Homo sapiens: one gene and its partners. The protein of the gene in region 4 purifies or fractionates together with the protein of the main gene of each other region. This does not show direct contact. Each region holds a gene or a part of one and is shown on either strand. Other genes may lie near its edges. The genes, in order: BMS1, IPO9, CCNT2, MACROH2A2, PUM3, URB2 and RBM19.

Region 1 (4,053 bases), about 27 Mb from region 4:
GAAATGTACCATTATAATTCTTCCACCTCCCCTCCTCTAATCCCACACCCTACTGAAAACGATGTAGGAAGATTAAAAGCAAAGGGAAATTTACTTTGTATTAATAAAAATGAGTAATTTTCAACTTAAAGTCTCATGTACATAATAACCCACACCCAGGATATATTTCTCAAACCAATCTGTAAAAGAAATCATCCAAGATAGTTACCATTATGCCACTGACAGACTGTATTGCCAAGAAACCAGTTCCCTGTGGAGTGATAGGGCCTTAAAGGAAAAGGAAAAAAAGAAATATAGCGAACCACAAATTTTAGATTCTAGTTTAACATACTGGATATGGACATTTAGATTTGGATATAGATTTACATATATACTCCAAACCACCTCCCCGCTCCCAGAAAAGAGAAAAATCTTAGGAGTGGAATTTTATGAAAGAAAAGCACAAAGCTATAATAACGCAGCCTGTAAGGTTTAATCTTGGCAACAGGCAAGTTATTGTAATCATATTTTACCCCAAAAGGCTGCTCCGCAATGCATGTGCTGTGGGGTATACTTTAGAAGCCTTTGTCTTCCATTGTGGTCTTCGATATAATACAGTGGGATGGTCTGAAACCTCCTCCACCCTACAGAAAATATGATTGGATCTCGGGACTTGAGGATTTTCTTATACCAGCGATGTTTCTTCAGACGCATCTGAGGGGACGAGAGGGTAAGATGATTGATGGAGGGGAAATCCACAGAGCCTCAGGCACCAAATATGTAGCAAAGGGACCCACCTGCACGTAGCCAACATTTCCCTCACTGTTGCCCAAGCCACCCAGGATAATGGGGTAATGGGGGTCAAAGTTCTGCACAAATTCACAGGGAACATTTTCAATCTCAATGCGGACGTACATCCCAGGTCGAAAACCCTCATACTGAACTCTGGCTTCATCATCTTGATCTTCAAATTCTGCGCGATTCAGCTGTACATGATGGGGAATAAAAAAACCTGTATGCTGTTATCTGTAATAAACATAAGATTAACATGAACAAATGAGCAATTTCTAAGTAAAGGAACTGTGGACAGAATTATGTAGGCTTTACCCTATTAAAAATACTACACATTTGGCCAGGTACAGTGGCTCACGCCTGTAATCCCAGCACTTTGGGAGGCCGAGGTGGGCAGATCACATGAGGTCAGGAGTTTGAAACCAGCCTCGCCAACATGGTGAAACCCCGTCTCTACTAAAAATACCAAAATCAGCTGGGCGTGGTGGTGCGTGCCTGTAGTCCCAGCTACTCAGGAGGCAGAGGTGAGAGAATTGCTTGAACCCGGGAGACGGAGGTTGCAGTGAGTCGAGATCGTGCCACTGCACTCCAGCCTGGGCAATAGAGCGAGATTCCATCTCAAAAAACAAAAAACCAAAAAAAAAGACCTACATATTTTACCTCTACAGTCTGCTCAGAATATGTCCCAACCGTTTTCTTCTCTCCTGCTCCAAGGGACAGCAAATGTAGATAACTGTGGAGCCCTGCATGCCCGAACACTGGAAACGTCCCCAGTCCACATCTTCTTTCTTTCCTTTCTGAACAATTCTTTCACACTTTTCCCTTGTCTTCAAACACCCACCACCACCCTCACCTTCACTCAGCTGATGGCTGTTTCCTGATTCACTCCAAAACCAAAAGAACCTCCACGGTCAGCCCTCTACCAGGGTTTCCTCCCATATCCAGCCTTATCAGAGCTCTGACCTGGCCCATAGGGGAGCTATGAGTGGCTATTTACATTAAAATTAATTACAATTACATAATATTTAAAATGCAGTTCCTCAATCACACTAGTCACACTGGAAGTGGTCCATATCAACCTGCGGCCAGTGTTACAATATTGGGAAGCACTGACGTGCATCTCGATGATCACAGAAAGTTCTACAGGCAGCTCAGGCACAGAATATTTGTCCATGCCTCTACTCAGGGCCACACATCACTTGCTCACTAGACACCATCCACTCTTCCTGGACTTTATTCCAACAGCTCTTCCCTCTGTTCTCTCTCTTATCTCAAAACCTTTTGATTCCACTTCTTCCACCAACAACGGCTTCATTTCTCTGCTTCTCTCTGCAGCAAAACCCCACAAAAGTTTTCTGCAGTTGCAGCCTCCAGTTCCTCTGCTCCCATTCTCCTACATCCATGAAAATTGGTGCTTGCCAAGATTGCTGAAGGCCTCCACGCTGAAGGACTCCTCCAGTGGTGAACTCTGCCTTCACCGTAGTTAACATGGCAGCAGGATCTGAACAATGCTTCGCCTCCATGTACAACTGGCCTCCTGTGTGCCTGCATGCTCACACTGCTTCTCCCTCCTAGGCACTGCTCAGGACTCACGGCCACAATCGCCCCATCTCGCCCATGCCAGTCTTGCTCCTCCCACTCACTCTGCACTCACTCCCGGCCACCTCACAGCGTTAAGTGGCATCTACATGCTGAGGGCATCTACATCTAAGTCCCTGGCCAGACCTCTCTCCAGACCTGACATTTCACTTGTCTGCATGATACCCAGCCGAACCAAACATCATCTTCCCAAAACTGCATCTGCAGAGGGTTTCCTATCTAACTTACAACAACCCGTCCTTCCAGGAACTTCCAGTCGACATCCTCATTTCCTCTCACACACCCCACATTCAGTCCACCAGGAAATCCTACTGACCCAGCTTCCAAATAAAGTCTATCCGGGTTTGACTCTTTCTCTCATCTCCACTGCCAGCCTTCTGGTTTGTGCCACCCGACTGATCTCTTGGCAGAGTGATCTGATTACCTCTCCTCTGCTCAAAACCCTCCAAGGACTCCCATTTCAGAGTGAAACATTCAGTCTTTTCCAATGGCCCACAAGGCTCTAGGTAATTTTAAATTGTAAATGGTGTGAAGCAAAAACTTCAGAGTTAGCCTAGTCATGCCTTTCAAAGGTCAACACAGACTAGCAACCACTAAGCTAATGCCTAATCAGGAAATAGTCCTTTGACTAGATGAAGACCTAGGATGAAACTCCGTTTCACAAATCATATACCTAATCTGTTCCAGCTTACACAGGCACTCCTGGCCTCACTAACAAGACGCAACTCAGATGCTCACCATCAACTGTACACACGTTTCTGTGTCTGTCTCCTTCAGAGTGAGATCACCGCCTCCAGCAACCTGCTCAGCATCCCCAGGCAGGAGGGCCACACCATCTCCCTTTATTTCTGCATCTGACCTTATACTCCACATGTCCTTCTGAACTCTGACCAGGATGAGTTTTCAGAGCACTTCCCCTGGGAGCTCTGGTGTGTCTATAAGCCACAGGGGCCACTGATCACCTGCCATTCAAATCAGGGAGCAGCGATTGGAATAGGCCGCCAATGCTTGCACTGAAATGAACACACTGTCTCAGATCACTACATTGTAAGACCATGTCTCAAAAGTAGAGACCATGTCTCAGTCATTTCTGTTTCCTAATTCTTGTTACAAAATAGGTATGGATCTTTTTCTGGTGACCCTCTGACTGCAGAAACAATGAGCTCACTGCATGAATAAACACACTCACATGCATCTCTACCCAGGAGTCCGAATGAAAGGCACAGAAGCAGGATACACAGAAGCAGGATAGGACGTAGGGACCCAAACAAAGTCAGGGATTCCTGCGCTATATGATAGTCTTGACAAGGGGCTGAGAGGAACTGAGGTTTCTCACCTGTGCTTGTTTCTGCATTTCTCCTTTAAGATCATCAAAATATGTGCTTTCTCCTTCATCATATTCTGCATCAAACATCTCCTTCAATTTTCTCTTCTTATCCAAATGCTTTTTCTTGGCACTTTCTTCTTCGTCGGGGTCAATTTCTTCCTTAACTTCTTTCTCTATATCTTCATTCTTAAATTTCCAGAAGAAAAAATTTTGTGTATGTTTATGAAGGTCTTTTCTTTAAACATTAGCTTTTTTAAAGTTCTATTTAAACAAGAATCTTAGCAAAAATCTGTTATCATTATCAATAAAACAAAAGAAAACACAACACAACCTTTGTCTCTGAATAACATGGTACT
Region 2 (4,053 bases), on a different chromosome or scaffold from region 4:
CTTGTCTCTCTAGGAGACCCTTCAGACCAATAGCATGTATTTCTTAAGTGATCCTTTATCCTCCATGCTCTCCTTTGGGTTTTCCCTTCTAAACCAAGTTTTAGATAGATAATGTTTTTGCCATATGGGGTGATAAGAGAGAAAGGGGAGCAAGGATAACGAGAGGGAAGCAAAAGACTAAAAGAGAATGAGACTAGAGAATGAAAGAGGGCAGAGGATTTCTTAGGAAGTCAAAGGATGCCATTTTGGATAGGAATAAAGGTATAATTAAGGAGAATCTAGAGTCAGGGTGAAAACCCAGATTAACAGAATGAACTGTCCTTATTTCACCATGGGAAAGGGAACTAGAGAAATTAAATTTCCTAACAAAAATAGCTTTAGAAAACAACTTCATATAGCCCTCTTGGCAGTGTTGCCCTTTGGCTCAACTTCATAGATTGAATGTTAGTTTAATCTTAAACAGTCGTTTCCAAGCAAAGCAAAATAAAGCGGATATTTATGTCTGTGTTTCTTATATTTTCCCTGCCTTCATCATCCCAGAGTAAGTTATTAGGCTATTCTTTCTCATATTTTTAAAGACATTGTGTTAAAGACACCAGGCCGGGCACAGTGTGGCTCACTCCTGTAATCCCAGCACTTTGGGAGGCCGAGGAGGGCGGATCACAAGGTCAGGAGATCAAGACCATCCTGGCTAACATGGTGAAACCCCATCTCTACTAAAAATACAAAAAAATTAGCCAGGCGTGGTGGCGGGCGCCTGTAGTCCCAGCTATTCTGGAGGCTGAGGTAGGAGAATGGCCTGAACCCGGGAGGCAGAGCTTGCAGTGAGCCAAGATCACACCACTGCACTCCAGCCCTCCAGCCTGGGTGACAGAGCAAGACTCCATCTCAAAAAAAAAAAAAAAAAAAAAAAACAGACACCAATCAGTAAAACCAGAAGTCCCCCAACACACACACACGTACTTTTTTTTTAACAAATATACTTAGTTGTATTTCAAAAAATATTGTATCTCTGTTAAGTGAAAAATCTGTAAGTAGGGTTTTACTACGTAACAGAAACCAATGGATAGGAGCAAATGTGTTGATCAGATTTAAAATAAGGCCAAGAGCTTTAGAATTATTTTCTGGCTTTTCCTTCTTTGCATTAGTTTGTTTCTTAGTTTGTTTTTTAATTGAGACAAGGTCTTGCTCTGTCATCCAGGCTGGAGTGCAGTGGTGTGATCATAGCTCACTGCAGCCTCAAACTCCTGGGCTCAAGTGATCCTTCCATGTTAGCCTCCTTAGTAGCTGGGACTACAGGTGTGCATCACCACACCCAGCTAATTTTGCATCGGTTTTATAGCACGGAGTTTACCATCAACATCATACTCCTTGGAAACAATTATTTATATAGCTTTTAAGTAAACTAAAGTATTATGGGTATGACACTCTTAAATGGTGAGTGATATCCTTGTATTTCTAGTAGGTATGTGGTCTAGACAGAATAAATTGGGTTAAGTAAAAGAATTTTGTATTTTCCCTCTTTCATCCCCCTATAACCTAATGCAAATAAGCTCTTTGTCTTTGAATTTTTGAGGCTTTGAAACATGTGGTCATGTTGGACATGTGGTCATAATTTTTGAAACTGTAGGGGTCTGTAGAGAAGGAAATCTGTTCATCTATTTTATTTTAAAATTTGTCTTTAGTTAACAATGATGATGTTATTTGAAGATTTTCTTTGCCATTATATATCTGCTTTTGAGCAAATATATGTTACTTGAACTTTAATGCTGCTTCTTTCATGCGTGAAAGAAATTAGCTTTTAGAAGGAGTCCATCTTAAAATACTTGTTGTAGGTACAGATCCCTTGGCTAACTTGGGTTTTTGGCCCCTACGTTGGTCTTAATCTTCTGATGATCTCTTATTCTCACCATCCCTTCCAGTCTCAGTGATGTGTGAAGCAAGGTGGTTAGTGGAATTTTGTATATGATCTTTGATAGGTTACCAGACATGATTAACTTATTACTGTATTAGAGTGAAGAGCTTCTAGCTACTGTGATCATCACTGGAGTGCATCCTTCTGGCAGGGATATGGAAAAAATATATTCATGCTAAGCTTTTCTCTGAAGAGAAAAGACTTGGAATTCTCTGGTTGATGAGAAAGGACCCTTAAGCTGTGATAGGACCTATGTGTAAAGTTTGCCTGGTCTTCATGCTCTAATGACTCCTGTGATCAGTGCCAGAGTGAACTGATGGAAAATGTGTGGTTCTTTTTCCCTTTTGTGAGCTGTGAGCCTCAGTATTACCCTACAGCTATATGAATATCAGTGCTTTCATTGGAAGGACAGTTGTTCAGATTTGTTTAAGCTTAAAGTCTTAAGTTTCAAACCCTTCTCAAAAAGTCTCATTCCTCAGTATCTTTTCACACTGTATATTGAAGAATTTCTTCATTTTGATCTTGTTTTAGTTTGTCCCTGTAGTAATGATCCAAAAATTATGCTCTTGCTAGGAACATTAAAAGTCCAAATCATAATGACCTATGGAAAAATTATTTAAATCATGCCTTAAAAGAAAATACTAGGCCAGGCACGGGGGCTCATGCCTGTAATCCCAGCACTTTGGGAGGCTGAGGCGGGCGGATCACTTGAGGTTGGGAGTTTGAGACCAGCCTGACCAACATGGAGAAACCACATTTCTACTCAAACTACAAAATTAGCTGGGCGTGGTGGCACATGCCTGTAATCCCAGCCACTCGGGAGGCTGAGGCAGGAGGATCGCTTGAACCCGGGAGGTGGAGGTTGCGGTGAGCTGAGATTGCGCCATTGCACTCCAGTCTGGGCAACAAGAGTGCAACTCTGTCTCAAAAGAAAAAAAAAGGAAATGCTGTTATGTCCCAGATAATTTGTGAATGTGCTTGTAGATTATTGTGAAGGAAGTTACATAAGGCACACCAGAATTGGTTCACCATGTCCAGGGAGGCCAATCCTGGGTGGACAGTGACATTCTAAGCAGACTTGAAGCCATGAAGTCTAAGTATCATCCATTATCACACTAAGTATCTGAACTCAAAGGAATTGTGGATGCCCTTACTAGTTGTCTTTCTCCTTTAAATGGATTTCACATGTGCATTTTAGAGTGCTTTTTTCCATTGAACTGGAACATTGCTATCCAAGAGATGTTCCTGAATTATCTGACTCATCTGTGTTTTAGAATCAGTTCTGATAGTTGACTCCCATATCTTCGGGTTGTAGATACCTGTTGTTTCTTCTCTTGCTACAAATGGGTTTTATAGATTTAACCAGAGTCTGTACTAACCAAATTAATCCTAAGAATTAGAATGGATTGCAGTATCTGTAGGGGGATTGTGCAAGTTTCAAGTGTTTGCTTGTGATTTAATCATTTAATAACTCTTTCAGAAAGAATGTGGCTTCTTCTGTGGCGGTCATGCCAAAAAAAAAAATCCACTTTCCTGAGTGAAACAATAGGTGCCATAGGAGTGGATCAAAAACTGCAGCTTAAAGGCATAATAAGAATGAATTAAGAATCTAAGAATTCAGTAAAACAGGACATAAAATATAAAAATCAATAGCTTTCACATACACAAACCATAAAAGGTTAGAGGACGTAATGGTTTTTTAAAAACCAAAACCAATTTACAGTATCAACAAAAAAGTAAATGCTTAGGAAATGTGTAAGAACCTATTAGAGGAAACTTTTTTTTTTTTTTTTGAGATGGAGCCTTGCTGTGTCACCCAGGCTGGAGTGCAGTGGCATGATCTTGGCTCACTGCAACCTCCGCCTCCTGGATTCAAGCGATTCTCCTGCCTCAGCCTCCCAAGTAGCTGGGACTACAGGCGCCCGCCACCACGCCCGGCTAATTTTTGTATTTTTAGTAGAGATGGGGTTTCACCATGTTGGCCAAGCTGGTCTCGAACTCCTAACCTCAGGTGATCCACCTGCCTTGTCCTCCCAAAGTGTTGGGATTACAGGCGTGAGCCACTGCGCCCAGCCTAGAGGAAACTTTTTGAGACAAGATTTTGCTGTGTCACCCAGGCTGGAGTGCAGTGGCTCAGT
Region 3 (4,053 bases), on a different chromosome or scaffold from region 4:
ACCATGTTGCCCAGGCTGGTCTCGAACTCCTGAGCTCAAGCGATCAGCCTGCCTTGGCCTCCCAAAATGCTGGGATTACAGGTGGGAGCCACCGTACTGACAAATCTTTTAACAAAGGCAATTTTTATCTGAAAGGTCTGAGGTTGGCCTCAAAATTCTTCAACTGTTATCACTTTTCAAAAAGTCAAAGTTTGACACAAACCCAAAATTAATATTATTTTCTGAACCTATGCACTATTGGCCCACACTTGACTGAAATGGGACTAGCAAAGCTCAATGGGGGATGGATAGAGTCCTAATACTTGGAAGCCCTCCGGAGTTTTAGTGAAATGAGATTCTTACCTATGTTTAAAGGAAGCTAACATACCAGGTAGAATCACAAATAGAAGTAGATGTAGAACACTAAAAAGTAATGCTTAAAAAATGACATTTCTCCCTAATTTTAATGAAACCTAACAAAAGGCTAGAAAAACAAAATAGCACCCAAATCAATTACAGATAATAAAAAGCATTAATACTTATCTTAAAAGTTTCAAGGATCACCTACCTCTTACTAACTGGGTACATTTCACCACATCTGTGTGTGGGTGTTCAATGGTGATCTCAAAACCTGAAATGATAAGCACTTTTTTTTCCAATCTCTTACCACTACAGTACTTGCCTGAGAAATGCCATAAACGTATAATATATTCTTCATTATTAAGAAAAATCCAAAGTTATAAGTTTCTCATCACTGACATTCTCATTACTTTTCCAATGACAAGATATAATTTTTCAAATACAATGTCTCAATTATGAAAATAAAGTTAAAAGACCAAGGGTAAATTTATTCAAAATTCTGAATTATAAATGATTCGGGATTATCTTAAAAACAAATTAAATTCCTGGCAAATACAACTGTTAAGCTGGTCCCACAATTTAAGGACGGAATTCAACTACGTAATATCTTTCTTAATATTCCAAAGCTTTCTTTCAGAAGACATGAAAAGTGCAGTTTTCATAAACATAACTGTTGGGCCACAGTGGTAGAAACGAGCTTTTAAATGATACGGCACTCTAGATCAAAGGGTTTCAACCAGTTACCTTATAACCATACTTCATTAATAATCAAAATCATATGACAAACCATAGAGGTCTCATGACTGCTTAAACTACTGTTTCTAATACCAAAGATGAAATGTTTAAAAGCTATCAACGTGCAATCAACCCTTAGGTGTGGCAGGGTTTCTGTTTTTATTAAAAGTGAAGATCACATTTGGTTGTCTTCAGAAGCAGTAAGTAAATAAAATCCTAACAAATGGGTAATCTAGATTTATAAAGTTGTTGTGTGGTCTATATATAGTTCTACTGTAATTAAATATGCAGAATACTTTAAAGCCATAGAGGCATATCTTCTAAATTCTAATGTTCCCCTTAAAATAACACTTTTCATTCTCTGTGCTTAAGAATATGTCATAAACAATATGGATATTACATTACGATTTTATATAACAACTAAATATTTTATAATGATTTATGATTTTTCATTTTCAATTTTTTACTTAAATGAAATTTATATAATTTTGTATAGTAAAACAATAACATGCTAAATCATTGGATTTGGAAGAAATAAGACCCTCACTTTTTTGGTATCTTTTTATTTTATAGAAACTTCAAATAATTTACAGCTGACCTCTGAACAACGCAGGGCCTAGGGGTGCCGATCCCCATGCAGTCGAAAATCCAAGTACTCCCCTAAGACTTAACTATCGTTGATCAGAACCTGCTTACCGCTGAAGCCTTACTGGTAACATAAACAGTTAATCAACACATATTTTGTATATGTATCATATACTGTATTTTTACAACACAGTAAGCTAAAGAAACTATTAAGAAAATCATAAGGAAGAGAAAATGTATTTACTAGTATTAAGTGGAAGTGGATCATCATAAAGGTCTCCATACAGAGTAGGCTGAGGAAGAGGGGTTGGTCTTACTGTCTCAGGTTGGAAGACACAAAAGAGGAGGCAGGAGAGGCAGGCAACACCTGGTGTAACTTTACAGAAATACACCACAATTTCTGTCTTTCGCTGGCATTAAATTCTCTGGCTTTAGATCCTTCACCTTCCCTTTGCTTTAAGCTTCTCTCCAATCATATTAGAGTCCATAGGTATGCCTTTCTTACAGCAATCCTGCATTCACATAAAAGCTTCATTTTCAATATGAGATAAAGTGCAAGGTTTTTGTGCCTGCTGGTATAGCTGCAGCGATGACTTCACAAATGTCTTTTTCTTCTTTCACACTGAACCTTACACTGGATTCATTTATCTTGAAATGGGCAACTGTAGCTACAGACCTCAATCTACAGTACATATCAAACAATTCAACTTTTTTTTGTAACATCACAACTTTCATCTGCTTCTTGGGAGCACTTCTGGCATCACTAGAGGCACTTTGTATGGGTCCCATGGTATTAATCCAAGTTTCCAGTATCGCACTAAATACGGTAAAAATATGCCAGAACCTCTTTTACCGCAATATGTAATTTACTGGAGAGACAAACTGTTCAGAGATGACAGGTGTCACACAGCATTTTACGTGGATACTCATAACATGTGAGCTCACTGCAATAGCAACAGGAGGTGGCTACAAAATTATCACAGCAGTACAGTTACGTATTATTAAAATTAATTTTATGTACCTTTACATTTGTTTATTTACATTTTCTCTTAACTGCGAATAGAGCCACATATTGTCTGTTTGTGTGCCTAACTTTTTAAAATTTTTATCTTTTAAAAATAGATTTATGTATATTTTATGGCAGTAAATGATAAAATAGACTAATATCTATATATAGTTTATGCATTCATGACATATCCAATTTTTTCAATATTTCTAGGCTACAGCTCACCTACAAGTTTTTTCAAATTGTTGCAAATTCCCAATTTTCCAATATTATTTATTGAAAAAAATCCATGTAGACCCATGGAGTTCAAACCCGTGCTGTTTGAGGGTCAACTGCATATGTATTTCACACAAACTAGTTTTGTAACGAAGAGTCTGTCACAATGGGAAATTGTGACTGATTTATCGCACTTCTATTCAACATCTGGGAATGGAGTAATGAAATTAAAAAAATGACAAATTCACGATATGACTCAGATACTATTCCACCTCTACAGAATGGAGGTACAACAGGTAAAGGAACTTTTGCCCAAGTTTACAAAGCAAGTCAGAGGCCTACAGATTTTAACTTGGATCTCCCCAAAGCCCATGTTCTTCCTACCACATCCTAGTAGGTTCTTCCAGAACTAACATATGACTTTAGATAAGCCATCACTTTCTTAGGCCTCAATTTCAGTAAATTGAGTAAGGTGAATGGTGACAGTAAATGAACTTGCATACAAAGATATAACCTTTAGAAAAGGATGACCAACATTTAAATAATTACTATGTCACATTAAAAATCATATGATAGGCCGGGCGTGGTGACGCACACCTGTAATCCCAGCACTTTGGGAGGCCAAAGTGGGCAGATTCCCTGAGCTCAGGAGTTCATGTCCAGCCTGGGCAACACGGTGAAACCCCGTCTCTACTAAATTACAAAAAAATAACCAGGTGTGGCAGTATGCACCTGTAGTCCCAGCTACTCGGGAGGCTGAGGCAGGAGAATTGCTTGAACCCAGGAGGCAGAGGTTGCAGTGAGCCGAGATGGCACCACTGCACTCCAGCCTGGGCGACAGAGCGAGACTCCGTCTTAAAAATAAATAAATAAATAAATAAATAAAATAAAAAAGGTGATATACTCATAAAATACTGACTGGCAGCTCGAGGAGAATAAGGATTGCTGTGTAGGTTTGTATACATCATAATCATATAAAACAACCCTAAAGGACCATTTTACTCTCCAGTGCAAATCCAGAGTGAAGCACAGTACTTCAACTACCTGAAAACCTAAGAAATCATACTGAAGGGTACGTTTACCATTCAATTTAATTATGCCAAATGAAATTAAATTCTAGAAAAGTAATTTCCTTATAACCAGGCAACCTTATTCTGTCTAAAACCTGTTTT
Region 4 (3,500 bases):
TTTGTTTACTTTCTAAAGCCTAGGAAGGCAGGCAGACTGAATTATTGGCAAATAATTCATTTCTAATACCAAGGATATTTGGGAAACATATATTTCTATTTTCTTTCTTTGATAAATTACATTGAACCATGTAAGATGGGCCTCTCAGAAGCTGTCTGAGAAAGTTAGCTATGGATTTTTTTTTTGGCAGATGTAGAAATAACTGGGGTGTGGGGAATTCCCAGCAAAACCAGTAATGCCATCCTATCTACTGACCAGAAAGAGCTTCCATGCTCACCCTTGTCTGACCAATGTTAGCGTTAACAATTCTCAGCAAAAAAGAACAATTCTCACTCTCACAATGCTGACACTGCCACAGCTCTTTAGTTTAAAAATGAATAATTCAAGACTGCAGTGAAAATCATTATCAGGGGAGGAAAGGAGGCATCATTGCTTGTAAACAGTAGGTTATAAAAATACAGTGGTGTTTTAATATAGCACAAGGCAATTCTCTTTGTTACCTTCTGTCCCAGAACAAGGCTCTTAGAAGACAGAATGGTGAATCCATCCCCTGGCCCATCTTCAGAGGTGGAATTTGAAGTTCCTTCTTTATCGCTGTCCTTTGGTTTGGACTGTCGGTAAAAATCAAAAGGCAAGATGAGAACCAATCCAGAAAAAGCCTGAGGTGCCTTTATTAAGCTCTTCTCACGGCTGCCACCAAGTTGAATATGAAAGGAAGTGGTTAGGTGATGTGTTCTGCTGTTTCTTGAAGGAGGGGAGCAAAAGTCAGCAATATAAGGAAAGAAAAGGGTACCGCAAAATAGCAAAATAGAAAGTGTGTTAAAGGGCTCACACATACCTGCAGTCCTCACCTACCCCTGTGCACCAGCACATTGTCCTTGCTCATTTCAATGCCTGCAGCTCACGACGACAAGCATCGGAGCTGGGTGGGGCCGTTGATAGCCCATTGCTTAGCCTTCTTTCTCCCCAGGATTTCTCGGGGCACAGAGGCAGTGTGGAATGAAACATCCACAACTTCTACAGTAGGGTTGTCCAATAGAACTTTCTGTGATCGTGGAAATATTCATCTTGATCCTCAATAATGTTGCTGAGTGCTTGAAATGTGGCTGGTACAATCAAGGAGCTGAATTTTAAATTTGATTTAGTTTTAATTCAAATCCAAATAGCCTTGGCTTGTGTGCCTTAGCTCACACTTATAATTCCAATGCTTTGGGAGGCTGAGGCAGGAGGGTCGCTTGAGCCCAGGAGTTTGAGGCTACAGTGAGCTATGATCTCGCCACTGCATTACTGTACTCCAGCCTGGGTGACAGAGTGAGACCCCTGTCTCTTAAAAAAAAAAAGCCACATGTGACCAGTGGTTACTGTACTGGGCAACATAGGAAAACATTATTCTATCAGTGGCATCTCTGAGCTAAGCTACCTAGTATATCAAGCTAACCCAAACACCTAGTATATCAAGTATATGCCAAACACCTGAAATTCCACTGGCGGAACTCAGGGAATGCCTGCAGGAGACTAGAGGCTGTTTGGAAGGCAACACAGAGCTCTGCAGAGAAATAAAATGCAGGTTCCTGGCTATCATCGCTCACTTCAGATTTTGCTGGGGGTAGTAAAAGGGATCTGAAAACCATCCCTGCTTAGGGTTTGGAAACCTAGAGAAGACCCATTTCAGCTCTAACCTCAAAGGCCCTTTATTCTTTTACCTGTACATTCTTGTCATTTTCTTCCGGCACCAAGCTGCAAGAGTCCTCGGTCCTTCAGAGGTGTCTGCTACGAAGTCATTGTCTCATCTTTAAACTTCCCTCCTGTTCTGTGAGCGTCTTAGTGTCTGCCTGGGCTGCTCTAACAAAATGCTATAGACTGGCTGGCTCACAAACAACAGAAACCACTTTCTTTTTTTTTTGTTTGTTTAAGAGACAGGGTCTTGCGCTGTCACCGAGGCTCGAGTGCAGTGGTGCCATCATGGCTCACTGCAGCCTCTAACTCCTAGGCTCAAGCCATCCTCCTGCCTCGGCCTCCCAAAGTGTTGGGATTACAGGCATGAGCCACTGTGCCTGGCCCAGAAACTTGTTTCTCATAGTTCCGGAGGCAGGAAGTCCTTGGCGCAGGCAGGTTCTGTGTCTGGCAAGGGCTCACTTCCTGGTAGATGACGCTTTCTAGCTGTGTCCTCACATGGCAGAAGGGTCCCTCTGCCTCCCTCAGGCCTCTTTTATAAGGGGACTGTTCCCATTCGTGAGGACTCGCCCTCATGATCTAGTTATCTCTCAAAGCCCACACCTTGTAATCCTATGCCTCTGGGGTTAGGTTTCAACATATGAATTGTGGGGGAACACAGACATTCAGACCATTGCAGTGGGAGTGCCTGGCCCAGGACACGCAGCCTCGGCCTACCTTTTTGGACGTCCGTGGTTTGGCAGCCTTGGATTTCTTCCCCCCCTTCTTGCCTGACGTGGCCTTCCTGCCTCTTTTCTCTGGGGGTGGGGAGAGGATCGTTTCCGACTTGCCTTTGGTCCCTCGCTTTTTGGCCAGCAGTTCGGGGTGAATTCTGGGCAGGACGCCTCCACTGGCGATGGTCACTCCTTTTAGCAGCTGAAGAGAGAAATGCATGCGCTCATGTAGCAAACAGCCTGCTAGTTCCCAATTTCATACAGTTCTTTTTTTTTTTTTTTTTTGATACAGAATCTTACTCTGTCACCCAGGCTGGAGTGCAGTGGCGCGATCTTGGCTCACTGCAGCCTCCGCCTCCAGGTTCAAGCAATTCTCTTACCTCAGCCTCCTGAGCAGCTGGGATTACAGGCACCTGCCACCACCCCGGCTAATTTTTGTATTTTTAGTAGAGACAGGGTTTCACCACGTTGGCCAGGCTGGTCTCGAACGGCTGACCTCAGGTGATCCACCTGCCTTGGCCTCCCAAAGTGCTGGGATTACAGGCGTGGGCCACTGTGCCTGGCCTGGACTTAATACGGTTCTAACTGTTAAATGTGGCCTCCGCTTTCCTAAAGAAACTGCGTAATACACCATTTAATTGGCTTTTCCCACTTTCAGTTGTAGAGCATTTCTCCGTAGGTTAACAAGGCATCCTGTGATGTTGTACAGAAAGCAAAACGAAGTAAAGCAAAATAGAAGGGACACAGAAGTTGAAACCAGGGATGTTGCCCAGGGCTCTGGAATTCCAGACACAACACAGGATAAAAAGCTTCCCATGTGGGGAGCGCAGCTTGAGAAAATGATGTTCAAAGGTCATTGCAAAGACTAGACCCAGTTAATGATGAACCAGTGGTCTCCACAAGCTTGCACATACATTCCATCAGTAAAGTATGTCTGGCCATGCTCCTCCCAATCAATATAAGTTAATTTATCTGCAAAGAACAGACACGTACTACTCCACTAATATATTCTGCAGATTCGAAACCAACACTACCCCAAGCATGGTCTGCGACCATGGCTCACCCATGAACTGGTAGTTACCCGTCAGTGACAACAGAAGTATAGCAAGCATC
Region 5 (4,053 bases), on a different chromosome or scaffold from region 4:
TACATACTGTATCCAGGCAGTAATTCCCATATTTAATTAACATGACTGGACAAATTCACCAAAAAAGCTAGTAAATATCAGGTTTTCAAAGAATATCTAATAAAAGTAGAGAACTATCACAATACAATGTTAAATTAAAAAAGGAGAAAAGAATGCATGTGACATGATTTCCATTTTGTGTAGATAAAATATGAAAATACATGTAGATGCAAAGAAAAATATAATAAAACAATAATTTTCTGCTTGGTAATTTTCTGAATTTTTCCAAATTTTCTATAATAGACATGAATTCATCTTACTATCAAAAATAATTAGAATATGTAGTTTTATTATACTTACATTAGCCACCTTTTCAACATAAGTCTTCATTGTTTTCACAATCACTTTCCTGTCCTTAAAAAGGAAAGATTGTCTCACTGAATTTTCAGTTATGTATTAAGGGTATTTTGTAGTTAAACATTTTAATATAATATTTATTAAGTTTTCATTTGAGTGGCATATGTTTTCATTAGTAAAAATAATAGTTATACAGCCAGAACAAAAAAACTGTAATATACCAAAGAAGTTGGCTTAGAGCTATTACAAGCTTAGATGTGTATGTGATAGGGTTAGGGTTAGGGTTAGGGTTAGGGTTAGGGTTTGCAAGCCACCTTTCACAGTGAGACCAGACAGATCCTTCTTCCAAGGTCTAAACTGTCCTCAAATGCAGAGTCTAGCAAACAGTTAGTACTCATCTGCATTTGTTGAATAAAATTAAATTTGCATTAAAAAAAGTAGATATAGTACAACTATCTTTTAAAGGCAGAATTATGCTGACCAAGGAAATAATGATAATTTCTGTTAAACTTCTGTGATTAATAAGGATCTTTACCTTTTCCCTCAAGTACATAACACCTATGGGAGCAAATGTGTGTGGCCAGCTGTTTGTTATCTCTTCCCATTTTCCCCTGCCACAGTATGATCATTAAAAGAGGAGGTACCAAAACCTCTATAAACTAAAGCTTAAATACATATTATGTTTACTTGCTTGATAGATCTCTTCCCATCCTTTAATGAAACTTCAAGGTTTCTACTAAAGCAGAGGAAAGAAGAAACACTAGGCCTAAAGAAGATGGCTCATTCCCATCAGGCTCTAAGGCACAACTTTTGGAAGATAATGCACAACAGGGCAAAGACCAAAGGGGGTTAAAAGTCTAAGGACAGCTAAGTCAAGCCTGCAGATAAAGCATGGCCCTGACTTGTACAGTTTAAATGCCCAAGTGCTGTCACACTTACCTTGGGCGTGCCATGCCACAGGCAGTGCATGGCCACTCTGGCGCCATCGTGTGTGTGTGCCAGGTAGACCACCGCTTCGCGGATGGCTTCAATCATTTCCTAGGGAACAAATGCTGTCAGGAACAGGGCTCTGCTTTATTTTCTTCTTTCTACTGTTTTATCTGTCTGTCTACAGGGGGCAGTTATGCAGAGAGAAGGAAAGGAAGAGAGTGCCAGGTAGCAAACAATTTCATTTTGTAGACAATCAAACAGAAACACGAGCTCTTTCTAGAAATGTTCTTTTCCATCAAGAGCAGTAAATACTGCTGGCAGACAATATCTATTAAAAACAATACCTGACTTTTACCAATGTCTGTTAAAAAAAAGGTCAAGCTATATGTGTAATATAATATATTCTAAATAATTTTCCAAGAAAAAGAAGCCTAGGAGGTGGTGGTGATAAGAAGGGAGCTTTTAACAGAATAGCGAGACAAAGAAAATGCTCTTCCCCAAAAGAGACCTGTATGCAATAAACAGAATCAAAACACTCATTTTGACTGAAAAGCTTCCCTTTTCAGTTCATAACTGGATTATCTCCAAAAATCACATTCTTTACCATAAACACGCTTACATAACATTTCCTCATGAAAAATTTCTATACTAACATTTAGACTAAGACCTCACCTATAAAATGACCCTTTAGTAAAAAACATTTAATTTCTCACTAGGTAGCTTAGCTTAATTTAACCTTTAGCCTTCATTTTCCATGTATATAATTTCTTATTTACATTTTCTTTTTTTTTTGGAGACGGAGTCTTGCTCTGTCACCCAGGCTGGAGTGCAGTGGTGCCATCTTGGCTTACTGCAACCTCCACCTCCCAGGTTCAAGCAATTCTCCTGCCTCAGCCTCCCGAGTAGCTGGGGCTACAGGTGCCCGCCACCACCCCCGGCTAATTTTTGTATTTTAGTAGAGACTGGGTTTCACCATATTGGCCAGGCTGGTCTCGAACTACTGACCTTGTGATCTGCCCGCCTCGGGTTCCCAAAGTGCTGGGATTACAGGTGTGAGCCACCGTGCCTGGCCCTATATTTTCAAAGTCTAAGGCATGTAGGATGTAAATGAGTTCTGGCAACTAACAAGTGCAGAGCTCCATTTTAGTCTATTCCCAATTTAAAAATGTACATTAAATAAATACAAAGCCTCATGCCACGAAAGAGAGGGTAGGTGCCTAATTTCATCAATAAGGAACAAACAATTTCAGCCTCAAGTATCTAACAATCCCTTCCCAAGATGACTCTCAAGAGCAGTTTCAACTAACATATCTGAACTTAGGAATCTCTTCAGAGCTATCCAGATGGAAAGCCATGCATATATTCCAATTATGCTTCCATTTTCCCCGAAGGTTTTTTTTTTTTTAAGTCTCTTTTGAAAATGCCCCCAATACCAGAAAAGACAATTTGTCTCATTACTTTACACGCATGCTAAGTTCCAAATGATTTTTTGCTGTTACTGAAACATTCAACACTAAAAAGATACTTTCTACCACTGAATATATTCAAATAATCATTGTGTCATTTCTGAGCATATAGTCCTGCCTCAGAACCGTGGGATACTGTATTTTTCAGGAAGTAAGAAAAATCTCCAAAACAGAAGGTGCTGCTATGGTCATCAAACCATAAGCTTACGTGGGTGGCTACCATCAGGAAATTATTTTGCATGCCAATTTTAAGAGGGTCAAAACTCCAATGAATGTATAGTCTGGCGTTATTTGTTAAGTCAGTCTCATTATTTTCATTATCCCTTGTGATTGGAAAATGAGGACAAATGGACAATGAGCTCACTGTATGATGAGGCAAGCAAAGTTCAGGGAACTAAATGATGAATTCTCATTTGTATTCCCATGACTGACTTGAAGGGCAGTGCAATTTACCTTCACTCTGTTCTTCTATGATATAAAGTCCAGGTTTTCATCGTCCACTTAGTTTTACAAACATATCCTCCTCTAACCTTTTAATGCCAAGCTAATTTTTTTTTTGTATTAGCACAGTTGAATTTAAAACTATCCGAATGCTTGAATATTCCTCCACGAGTTAGTTAATTTTCAGATTAGGTTAGCCAGCGGATACTCTCTGGATTATAATTAAGATATAAAAATTTAATATGATTAGTAAAACTAGGGTCAATTCTATTGTTTACTGGAATAAAACCTAAATGGAATTAGCAAACGTGTTCAAAGGGAGTTGAGTAAATTATCTTCCCTAAATAAGGAAGCAACTCTAAAATTTCCACAAGACAACGTACATCAAAGCAGTTTTTCAAATTTCTACACCGCTCCTCCTCCATGTTTTAGTTTAAAAACAAAAACCAAGAACTTACTGATCTGAGTTTGGGGGGTGCATAGGTAAAAAAGTCCAAGAATACTTTATGCACCAATGAGTGCTTAATCACAGCTTCCCTGAAAACAGAAAAAAAAAGCAAAAAGACACAACAGATCTGGCACTACAGTCATACAAAGACAGGTAATCTCAAAGTCCTAAAGTAATCTAAACAAGTGAAATGGTTTTACTGAATACAATTTGTCATAAAATAGACTGTATTTTTCAGAAATACTAAAACTTAAACAAAAATTTAGATGGTAAAATTGATTTAGTGCCATCTACAACCAAGACCAGAGTATAAACTTCTAGTATTTAATCGGCAAACATAAAATCAACATTTGAAATATGCTCTGCTCTATTAAATAAGGACATCTACATTTTTTCCCCCAGCACTGGACATAATGATTAGAAATCCACATG
Region 6 (4,053 bases), on a different chromosome or scaffold from region 4:
GGTGGAAAAAGCAGGTACACGTAGTTACTGTGATGCCATGCTCTCACACGCACAGCTACGCCTGTGCATTGTGTGTACACACACAAACACAGAAGACGACAGCCATGCTTAGGAGGTAAACCTGAACCACAGAAGACAGTGATTATTGCTTTGTGCGGTTGACCCTTGAACAATGTTTGAACTGCATGGATCCACTTATACATGGGTTTTCTTCTGCCTCTAGCACCCCTGAGACTGCAAGACCAACCCCTCCTCTTCCTCCTCCTCAACCTACTCAGTGTGAGGATGAAGAGGATGAAGACCTTGATGATAACCTACTTCACTTAATGAATGGCAAATACATTTTCCCTTCCTTGTTATTTTCTTAATAACATCTTCTTTTCTCTAGCTTACTTGATTGTAAGAATATAATACATAAATACATACACAAAATACGTGGTAATCGACTGTTTATGTTCAGCAAGGCTTTGGTCAACAGTAGGCTATCAGTAGTTTAGTTTCTAGAGAGTCAAAAGTAATACAAGATTTTTTTAATAGAATTGTATCAGAAGGATATACACGGAATTTTTTACTGTGCTGGGGGTTGGTGCCTTAACCCCTATGTTGTTCAAGGGTCAACTGTATTTTATTTCTCTATTTTCTTTGTGTTTCTTTATAAAATCGGTAGGGCTGCAAGAGTAGGTGGTATTTTAAACAGATGGGAAAGTCAGAAAGACTAAGAGAGCTCCACTTTTCAGGCCTGGATGACTGTCAGGAAGTCACCCAGCTGTTCCCCATCATCCCCAGTGTCCTTGGGCCCACGGTTTCACAATAACGCCCAAAGCCAGGGCACTCAAGGCCCTTTATCGTCTGGCCCCAGGTCATCTTTCCAGCCAGCGCTTCAGCCCCATCTGCCTATTCCACATTGCCAGAATACCTTCCTGCTTTCCTGTCTTTGCTTACTATTTACAGCACTGGGGGAAAGGGGACTTTTGAGAGGTAAAGACCTAGGTCCAAGTCTCCCACAAGCTGTAAAACCCTGGACCCATGATCTCTCTGAACCTCAACTCCCTCATCAGTGAAGTGGGCATAACAGCACCAACTCCTGTGGCTGGCAAACAAAAAAAGGCCACAGAGCTCACAACATAGTGCCCTCACATGAAAGGCTCCCATTTCCACCTGCCCTAGCTACCCTTCAAGGGCCACTCACACGTGGCCTGTATGTGGCCTCTCCACCGAGTCCCATCGCTCTGGTTCGCTTTATGGCGTCTCCCCCACCTTTACCCTGTGATTTGTGCGAATGTCTGTTTACTTAATTACATAGGCCAAAATCAACACCTCACTCATCTCCAGAGCAGGATACAGCCTCAAACATACAAGCATTTTAATTGGTTTTTTTTATGTTTCTGGAGACAGGGTCTCACTCCATCACCCAGGCTGGAGTGCAGTGGCACAATCATGGATCACTGCAGCCTCGACCTCTTGGGCTCAAGGGGTCCTCTCGCCTCAGCCTTCGGAGTAGTTGGGACCACAGGTGCATGCTACCCACACCGGCTTTTTGTAGAGATGGGGTTTTGCTTTTTCACCCAGGTTGGTCTCAAACTCCTGGCCTCAAGTGATCTCTTGGCTCAGCCTCCCTAAGTGCAGGATTACAGATGCCAGCCACCACTCCCAGCCAAGAAGCATTTTTAGAAGTGTTGATTTCTGTAATTGAATTCAGGTCCTCTGTTCTGCTGTCAGAAGGCATTCTTTACAAAAGCCCACCTCTGAGCCATCCTTAAGGACACAGGGAGAACTCCATGGCTGGGGCACCTGCACGGCGCCTCTTCACACTCCCTCTCCCTGCCCAAAGCCTTGGGCCACTCCTCACTTGGCATTTCTTCCAGAGCACTCACAACTCTGGCACTTCCCTGGACAGTATCTAACAGCTCAGGTGGAAGAGGCCTGGACACAGCAACACCCCAGGCCCATGAGCTGAGGGCACAGTGTGGCAGGCTGGCCTTGCCCAACCCTGACCACACTGTGACCGAGGTGCTCTGTCCCTGAGGAAATAAGGTACCAGCAGTCCAGGGACATACACTTAGGACTTAAAGACTGCCTCAACTTGGCCAGGCACGGTGGCTTATGCCTGTAATCCCAGCACTTTCGGAGGCTGAGGCAGGCAGACCACTTAAGGTCAGGAGTTCGAGACCAGCCTGGCCAACACGGTAAAACCCCATCTCTACTAAAAATACAACAATTAGCCGGGCATGGTGGTGCATGCCTGTAATCCAAGCTACTCAGGAGGCCGAGGCATGGGAATCGCTCAAAGCCGGGAGGCGGAGGTTGCAGTGAGCCGAGACCGGGCCACTGTACTCCAGCCTAGGTGACAGAATGAGACTCTGTCTCAAAAAAAAAAAAAAAAAAAAAGAGATTGCCTCAACTCAGTAGGGTTGAAGAGGAAAAGGAGGACACAATATTCTCTTTAGCTAAGGGGCACAGGGCAGAGCTTCAGACCACCAGCTGCCATTTCTTGGGCCAGTCACTTAGAACACTGTAATTAGGCTTAATAAAAGACTCTATTTTAGCCCCCATTAAGAAGGTGAACACCATTCGCTAAAAGAGACCCTAACACAATAAGACAGAACAATGTAATATCAAAGCCTTTCAGTTAATCCACAATCCAGCCAGAGACAGGTTACTGAAAGGGAGACAACAGCAGCGTGATTTGGCCCATGGCACTTCAGTTCTGGCACTGGCACAGGCAGACCAGATGGCTTTACTTTCTGCGAGAACCCATTTAACCCTCACGTACCGAAAGGCACGCCCGTGGCCCCACCCGTCACAGCTTCTCCACCCAGAAACACAGAGGTTAAGGTGTGCTTAACACAGACGTTAATGTGACATTAACGAGGGTCAGATTCGGCTGACTTCCAGACCTCACCTCAAAAGACTGACCTGACCCCAGCCCTTTCGTTACCACCAAAACAAAAAAGAAAAGACCCCCCACAACTGTGATGTGTGCCATCTTGAAACAAGAAATCTCTTCCATTAACTGTTTGTTTGGGAGGAGTAAAAGTGTGTTTTATTTGTATACCCTAATAAAGGTAACAAATCTTAATCATCCTTCACTGTAGAGGAAAACCTCAACAAACTCTAAATGGGCCTCCAAAAACATTATAATCTATCCCCTGCTTATGGCATATTTAATTAAATCATAGAAAAGTATTTTGATTTATTCTTATTAAAATGCAACATTAAAGTGTACAAAATAAGAAAATAGCAACAATCACAACATGTTAATGCAATAATACAATGCATGTTAATACATGCATGTTAATACAATAATTATTTTAATTTTTGGATGGGTTTCTAGCCTTTGTCTGCACGCATGTATATCTTATATAGCTGTAATTGTGGCATATTTAACATTTCATACTGTACTTTTTTTGCTTAATATTTTCTAGATATTTCTAGCCCTTGTCTTCATAATAGTTTTCATAATTATATTTTTAACGGCTGCATAGTAACCCATTAACCTTTCACCAGGGGGGCTGTAAAGGTCGACTCTGTGCAGGAAGACATGAGCTCTCTTGCTTCGAGGCTGTGTACGAGGTCCTAGTTTGCTGCTTGGAAGGCTGCCTTCAGACTAAAACACTTTGATGACATTGAAGGTTAGCCTTGGTCCAGTGAGCACTTGCACCTGGCAGCACCCTAATATGGTGGGGGGACAGGGGTGAACTAAGGAAGGCACAGTCCTGTCCTCAAGGAACTGTAAGAGGCTCTTTGGAAATTAAGTGATTTGGCTGGACATGGTGGCTCACGCCTGTAATCCCAGTACTTTGGGAGGCTGAGGTGGGCGGATAATGAGGTCAGGATATCGAGACCATCCTGGCTAACATGGTGAAACCCTGTCTTTACTAAAAAATACAAAAAAATTAGCCGGGCGTGGTGGCGGGTGCCAGTAGTCCCAGTTACTTGGGAGGCTGAGGCAGGAGAATGGCATGAACCCGGGAAGCGGAGCTTGCAGTGAGCTGAGATTGCACCACTGCACTCCATCCTGGTAGACAGAGTGAGACTCCATCTCAAAAAAAA
Region 7 (4,543 bases), on a different chromosome or scaffold from region 4:
AGGTGGGAGGATGGCTTGAGCCTGGGAGGCGGAGGTTGCAGTGAGCTGAGATTGTGCCACTGCACTCCAGTCGGGGTGACAGAGCCCGACCCTGTCTCAAATAAATAAACAGATAAATAAAGTGCTGATTCATGCTGCAACATGGAAGAACTTTGAAAACATTATGCTAAGTGAAAGAAGTCAATTACAAAAGACTACATATTGTATTATTCCATTTACATGAAATGTCCATAACAGACAAATCCATAGAGACGGAAAGTAGATTAGTGGTTATCAGAGGGAAGGGAGAGGGAGGAATTGGAAGGTTATAGCTAAAGGGTGTGGTGTTTCTTTGGGGGTAATGAAAATGTCCTAGCATTGATTGTGGTGATGGCTGCACACCTCTGTAAATATAGTCAGCACCATTGAATTGTGCACTTTAAGTGGGTGAATTGCATGGTTTGTGATAAAGCTGTTAACAATAAGAAGGGGGGACGGAATGTCTTTTAGGTGAAGGAAATTGCAGAAGCTTGGCAGCAACGTCCAGTGCAGCTGAGGCACTGTGGGGAAACAGAAAGGAAATACCGTCATTTAAGAGTGAAAATAGGGGTTTTCATAGGATGTCTCCATCCAAGAGTAGGTACCGAGAATGCTCAGAGAAGCAATAGGAAAATAACATCCCTTTCACGTTCTCACCTCCTTAACCCCTAGCATAATAAAGAATTATTCCCATTTTATAGAAGTAGACACAAAGGCTCAGAGGCCATTTTGGCCAAGATCTCTCAGCTAGAAGATTGGCCAGCTGAGAGTTCCAAACATTAGGAAGGGAGGCAAAATGCTTGTGGGGCTGGGGTTGAAGGCGTAGAGACTCATTGTAGGGCCCTAGGCAGTCCCTAGCTCGAATCTGACTTTCCAATTCATAGTTATAAGACTTTGAGCAAGCTGCTTTACACGCACGATTCCCAGTTTATCTGCCTGCAAAATGAGAGCGTTTATTTCCAACATGTTCATTCCAAGTATTTACACAAAAGGCTCAATACTTGATTTGTGTTGGCTGGCAATCTCTCTAAACTTCACTTTCCCCATTTCTACGAGGAAGGCAAGGGTCCCTAATCTTGCCCCCGTTCTCAGGGGAGTCCTAAGGCTCAATAATAAAAATAAAATAAGAAAAAGGAGAGAACGCGATTGCCCGGTTGGCGCGACCCTTAACACCGAGCTAAACCGGCGCATGTTAGGGACCGGCGCCCCCTGCCGCCTTCTCCGCTGCATTGGCGTCTCACAGAATCCGCCCAAGGCCCTGCGCCTGCGCAAAATGCAAGCGCCCAGGCCCACCCCTTGTGGGGTGTGACCTCCCTGAGTAGTTTTGGATTAGCCACGCCTACTTCCGGACAGGTCAGGCCAAGGTCTCAGCCACGTGACTGTGTTCCGGCTCGGTAAAGATGGCGGCGCCCAGGGCGGTAGCGTGAAACTTGGTGGAAGACGCTGACCAGTCGTGTTGGAATCAAAACAGCGGGGACCCTGCGCCATGTCGCGACTGATCGTGAAGAATCTCCCGAATGGGGTGAGTGCAGAGGCAGGACTTGGGAATCTGAAATGAGACCAGCCGGGAGCTGTGAGGTAGGGAAGAGATGCCTGGAGGTGATCGAAGAATTTTTGCTCTGGGGCAGGACTCCGGGCCAATTCTGAACTCAAAGGGGGCGGGATCCTGGGCTTATCCCCATTTGATCCCGAGGAAAGAGGAATAGTGACTGCTTACGGTTTCACGGCCGGTTGTTTGGTACCTGACTCCTAACACACCTCTTCTCGGGGAGATGACAACTCCCACCTTGTGGCGAATACCCTGCTCCCACAACCTCTTTCATTCGATCACTGTTTTTTAGTTGTTGACCCGGGACATGGTCCGACACTGTATTTATATTCCTCTCCCAGTCTGGAAACTGTTGGGGAAGACATGGGGAATATTAATCTGCGGACCTGCGTTCCAATTCCCACTCCCATCCTTAGGGCAAGTAGGAATACGGAGTGGGTAAAGGGCTTTACAGCATTTATCCAGTAAGTGGGGAGTGGTGACCCAGCCATACTTTTTTGTTTCCCTGGAGCCCAGCGCAGAACCCGACACGTGGTAGGCAAAATAGGTGAATGTACGTAATATTAGATGATTAGATGCGGTGGGCTCGAATGGATCATCCTTTTTTCTCTCTCTCGCTGTTTTTTGTTCTGTTTTGTTTTTTTGTTTTTAAATGGATTACTGCTCCTTCCATCAGGTTAGACAGTGTCTCTTGATGCCTCGCTTTGTGGGATGAGGATTTTTAGCGTAGCTGCACTTCCTTTCCCTCCCAAATTCAGCTTTGTTGTGTTTCAAGTGTAGTTGATTCTCTTATCATTGTTTGTCTTATCTCTTTTTTTTCTCTCTCTTTCATGGCTTTTTTTGGTTTTGTTTTTTGTTTTTTTCTTTTTTTGTTTTTTTTTTTTAAACGGAGTCTGGCTCTGTCTCCCAGGCTGGACTGCGGTGGAGCAATCTCGGCAGTCTCGGCTCACTGCAACTTTTGCCTCCCGGGTTCTAGCGATGCTCCTGCCTCAGCCTCCCAAGTAGCTGGGACTACAGACACGCGCCACCAAGCCCGACTAATTTTTTTATTTTTAGTAGAGACATGGGGTTTCGCCATGTTGGACAAGTTGGTCTCGAACTCCTGACCTCAGGTGATCCACCGCCTCGGCCTCCCAAAGTGCTGGGATTACAGGCGTGAGCCACTGCACCTGGCCCCCATTTCTGTTCTAATGTTGTGAGTTTTTTCCTTTCCTTTTTTTTTTTTCATTTGTCAGGTGGGACAAAGGAACTTTGTAACACACAGTTTTCAAAATTCAAACAGTATAGTAGTGTATAACATGAGTAGCAAAGTCTTTGCTCTGTCCTACCTTCCCTCTCTGTCCAGGAGTAACCATCTTCATTGATTTGTTTTTGGGACTCCTCACATGTATCTCTGTATATTTGAGGAGTGTACTTTCCTCCTTTTGACCTGCCTGCCCCAGTGACTATCTGCTAGGCCTCAACTGTGAAAAATAAGGAATTTAGATCATCTGTTCCTCCTCTCCAGTGTCTGTAATATTCTTGTTTTTAATTATCCTGTTATAATCTCTGAGTAGTATACTTAAAAATATCTATTACTCATCCATCCATCAGGTTAGACATGTCTCTTGATGCCTTGCTTTGTGCGATGAGGATTTTTAGCGTGGCTGCACTTCCTTTTCTTCCCAAATTCAGCTTTGTTGCACTTCACAGTGTAGTTGACTCTCTTATCATTGTTTGTCTTATCTCATGAATGAAAGAATAATAAAAACAAGGGCAGTTGCAGCTGACACTTGGAGAGTTTACTGTGTGCCAGGCACTGTTCCAGGTGCTTTAGGTAAAGTAACATTTAATCCTCACCATATCCCTGTGAGGTAAGTTTTATTTTTACGCCCATTTTAAAGGTAAAGAAACCAAGATACAGCGAGGTACAGGGATTTGCCTGAGGTCACACACTGGTGTAATTTATAGAGCAGGGATTGAATTGAGCAATCTTTAGTTTAGGGATTGAATTGAGGAAATAATTAGTAGTGAGTACTTGTGATATTGCTGACACTGTAGATAGAGGTGGATAAGCCTGTGTCCTTATTTTTAATGGGACTTGCAGGCTAGCAGAAAAGAGAGGCACCAGATCATTACGATGCAAGGTGCATCACTGACATGTGAACCGAGTGCTGTGGGAGCACAGTGAGGGTTGGTTATCTCGTCCATCTAAGGCATCTAAGAAAGGCCTCCTGGAATAGGAGATGATTGAACTGAGAATGAGGAGTTAGCCAGGGCCTGTCTTGGGAAATATCACCCAGAGGGGACAACCAAAGTAAAACCTCGGAAGTGAGAAGGCTGTGAGAAATTTGTCAAAGCGTGGTGCTGAAGAGGTTGGTCAGGGCAGATCTTGAAGAATTGCATGTTTTCCTTTAGGTGCTCGTCCTTGAGACTTTGGTGCCAGAAAGTCACCGAAAGGTTTTTGGCAAAGGAATGATGGATTCAGACTTGAGCCAGGTCTCTCCCAGGCACTGAGGAATTGAATTCACTGTCTTATATTTCTGAATTGAGTCACAAACCTTGATTCTGTAGGCCTTGGGCAGATCATTTATCCCTTATGAGTTTCATTTTCTCTATAAAATGTGGACAAAAATTCCTAACTCACAGTGTGATTGAGATTTTGATTAGATCAGTTAGTAAGAAGCTACCTCAGAAAATGTCATCTTCTGGCTGGACTGCCAAGGCCTCTAGCTTCTTGCATTTTCAAACTTATTTTGGCTGTTCGTGGGGCCCTGAATGTCCCCTCAACTCCACTACCACACACACAAATATCCCAGTATCTGCTTAGAAAACTGAGTTGTGAGGGTAGCCTGGCTGCAGTGAAGATGGTGAGAAGCCAGGAGCCTGTTTTCCATAGTGTGGGGCTTCTTGACCAAATTATAATAATAGTGTGTTAGTTTTTTAGTGCAGCTATAGCAAATTAGCACAAACTTAGTGGCTTAAACAATCCAGACA

Evidence for each region.
Region 1: the proteins of MACROH2A2 (region 4) and BMS1 purify together in Homo sapiens (affinity purification with mass spectrometry; 2 studies listed by BioGRID and IntAct, with this or other methods). This does not show direct contact.
Region 2: the proteins of MACROH2A2 (region 4) and IPO9 purify together in Homo sapiens (affinity purification with mass spectrometry; 2 studies listed by BioGRID and IntAct, with this or other methods). This does not show direct contact.
Region 3: the proteins of MACROH2A2 (region 4) and CCNT2 purify together in Homo sapiens (affinity purification with mass spectrometry; 2 studies listed by BioGRID and IntAct, with this or other methods). This does not show direct contact.
Region 5: the proteins of MACROH2A2 (region 4) and PUM3 purify together in Homo sapiens (affinity purification with mass spectrometry; 2 studies listed by BioGRID and IntAct, with this or other methods). This does not show direct contact.
Region 6: the proteins of MACROH2A2 (region 4) and URB2 purify together in Homo sapiens (affinity purification with mass spectrometry; 2 studies listed by BioGRID and IntAct, with this or other methods). This does not show direct contact.
Region 7: the proteins of MACROH2A2 (region 4) and RBM19 purify together in Homo sapiens (affinity purification with mass spectrometry; 2 studies listed by BioGRID and IntAct, with this or other methods). This does not show direct contact.

The regions. Positions count from the first base shown.
Region 1 is NC_000010.11:42,817,148-42,821,200, reverse strand, and holds part of BMS1 (ribosome biogenesis protein BMS1 homolog), read right to left. Parts: intron 3,884-4,053; coding exon 3,707-3,883; intron 1,006-3,706; coding exon of another isoform or gene 966-1,005; coding exon 777-965; intron 694-776; coding exon 513-693; intron 268-512; coding exon 209-267; intron 1-208. UniProt on the Homo sapiens protein: GTPase required for the synthesis of 40S ribosomal subunits and for processing of pre-ribosomal RNA (pre-rRNA) at sites A0, A1, and A2.
Region 2 is NC_000001.11:201,835,230-201,839,282, forward strand, and holds part of IPO9 (importin-9), read left to right. Parts: intron 1-4,053. UniProt on the Homo sapiens protein: Nuclear transport receptor that mediates nuclear import of proteins, such as histones, proteasome and actin. Serves as receptor for nuclear localization signals (NLS) in cargo substrates.
Region 3 is NC_000002.12:134,939,169-134,943,221, reverse strand, and holds part of CCNT2 (cyclin-T2), read right to left. Parts: intron 611-4,053; coding exon 548-610; exon of another isoform or gene 1-547. UniProt on the Homo sapiens protein: Regulatory subunit of the cyclin-dependent kinase pair (CDK9/cyclin T) complex, also called positive transcription elongation factor B (P-TEFB), which is proposed to facilitate the transition from abortive to production elongation by phosphorylating the CTD (carboxy-terminal domain) of the large subunit of RNA polymerase II (RNAP II).
Region 4 is NC_000010.11:70,090,846-70,094,345, reverse strand, and holds part of MACROH2A2 (core histone macro-H2A.2), read right to left. Parts: intron 2,590-3,500; coding exon 2,392-2,589; intron 612-2,391; coding exon 501-611; intron 1-500. UniProt on the Homo sapiens protein: Variant histone H2A which replaces conventional H2A in a subset of nucleosomes where it represses transcription. Nucleosomes wrap and compact DNA into chromatin, limiting DNA accessibility to the cellular machineries which require DNA as a template.
Region 5 is NC_000009.12:2,823,442-2,827,494, forward strand, and holds part of PUM3 (pumilio homolog 3), read right to left. Parts: intron 3,711-4,053; coding exon 3,632-3,710; intron 1,375-3,631; coding exon 1,276-1,374; intron 394-1,275; coding exon 340-393; intron 1-339. UniProt on the Homo sapiens protein: Inhibits the poly(ADP-ribosyl)ation activity of PARP1 and the degradation of PARP1 by CASP3 following genotoxic stress. Binds to double-stranded RNA or DNA without sequence specificity. Involved in development of the eye and of primordial germ cells.
Region 6 is NC_000001.11:229,639,345-229,643,397, reverse strand, and holds part of URB2 (unhealthy ribosome biogenesis protein 2 homolog), read right to left. Parts: intron 1-4,053. UniProt on the Homo sapiens protein: Essential for hematopietic stem cell development through the regulation of p53/TP53 pathway.
Region 7 is NC_000012.12:113,963,189-113,967,731, reverse strand, and holds the start of RBM19 (probable RNA-binding protein 19), read left to right. Parts: upstream 1-1,406; 5' UTR 1,407-1,504; coding exon 1,505-1,540; intron 1,541-4,543. UniProt on the Homo sapiens protein: Plays a role in embryo pre-implantation development.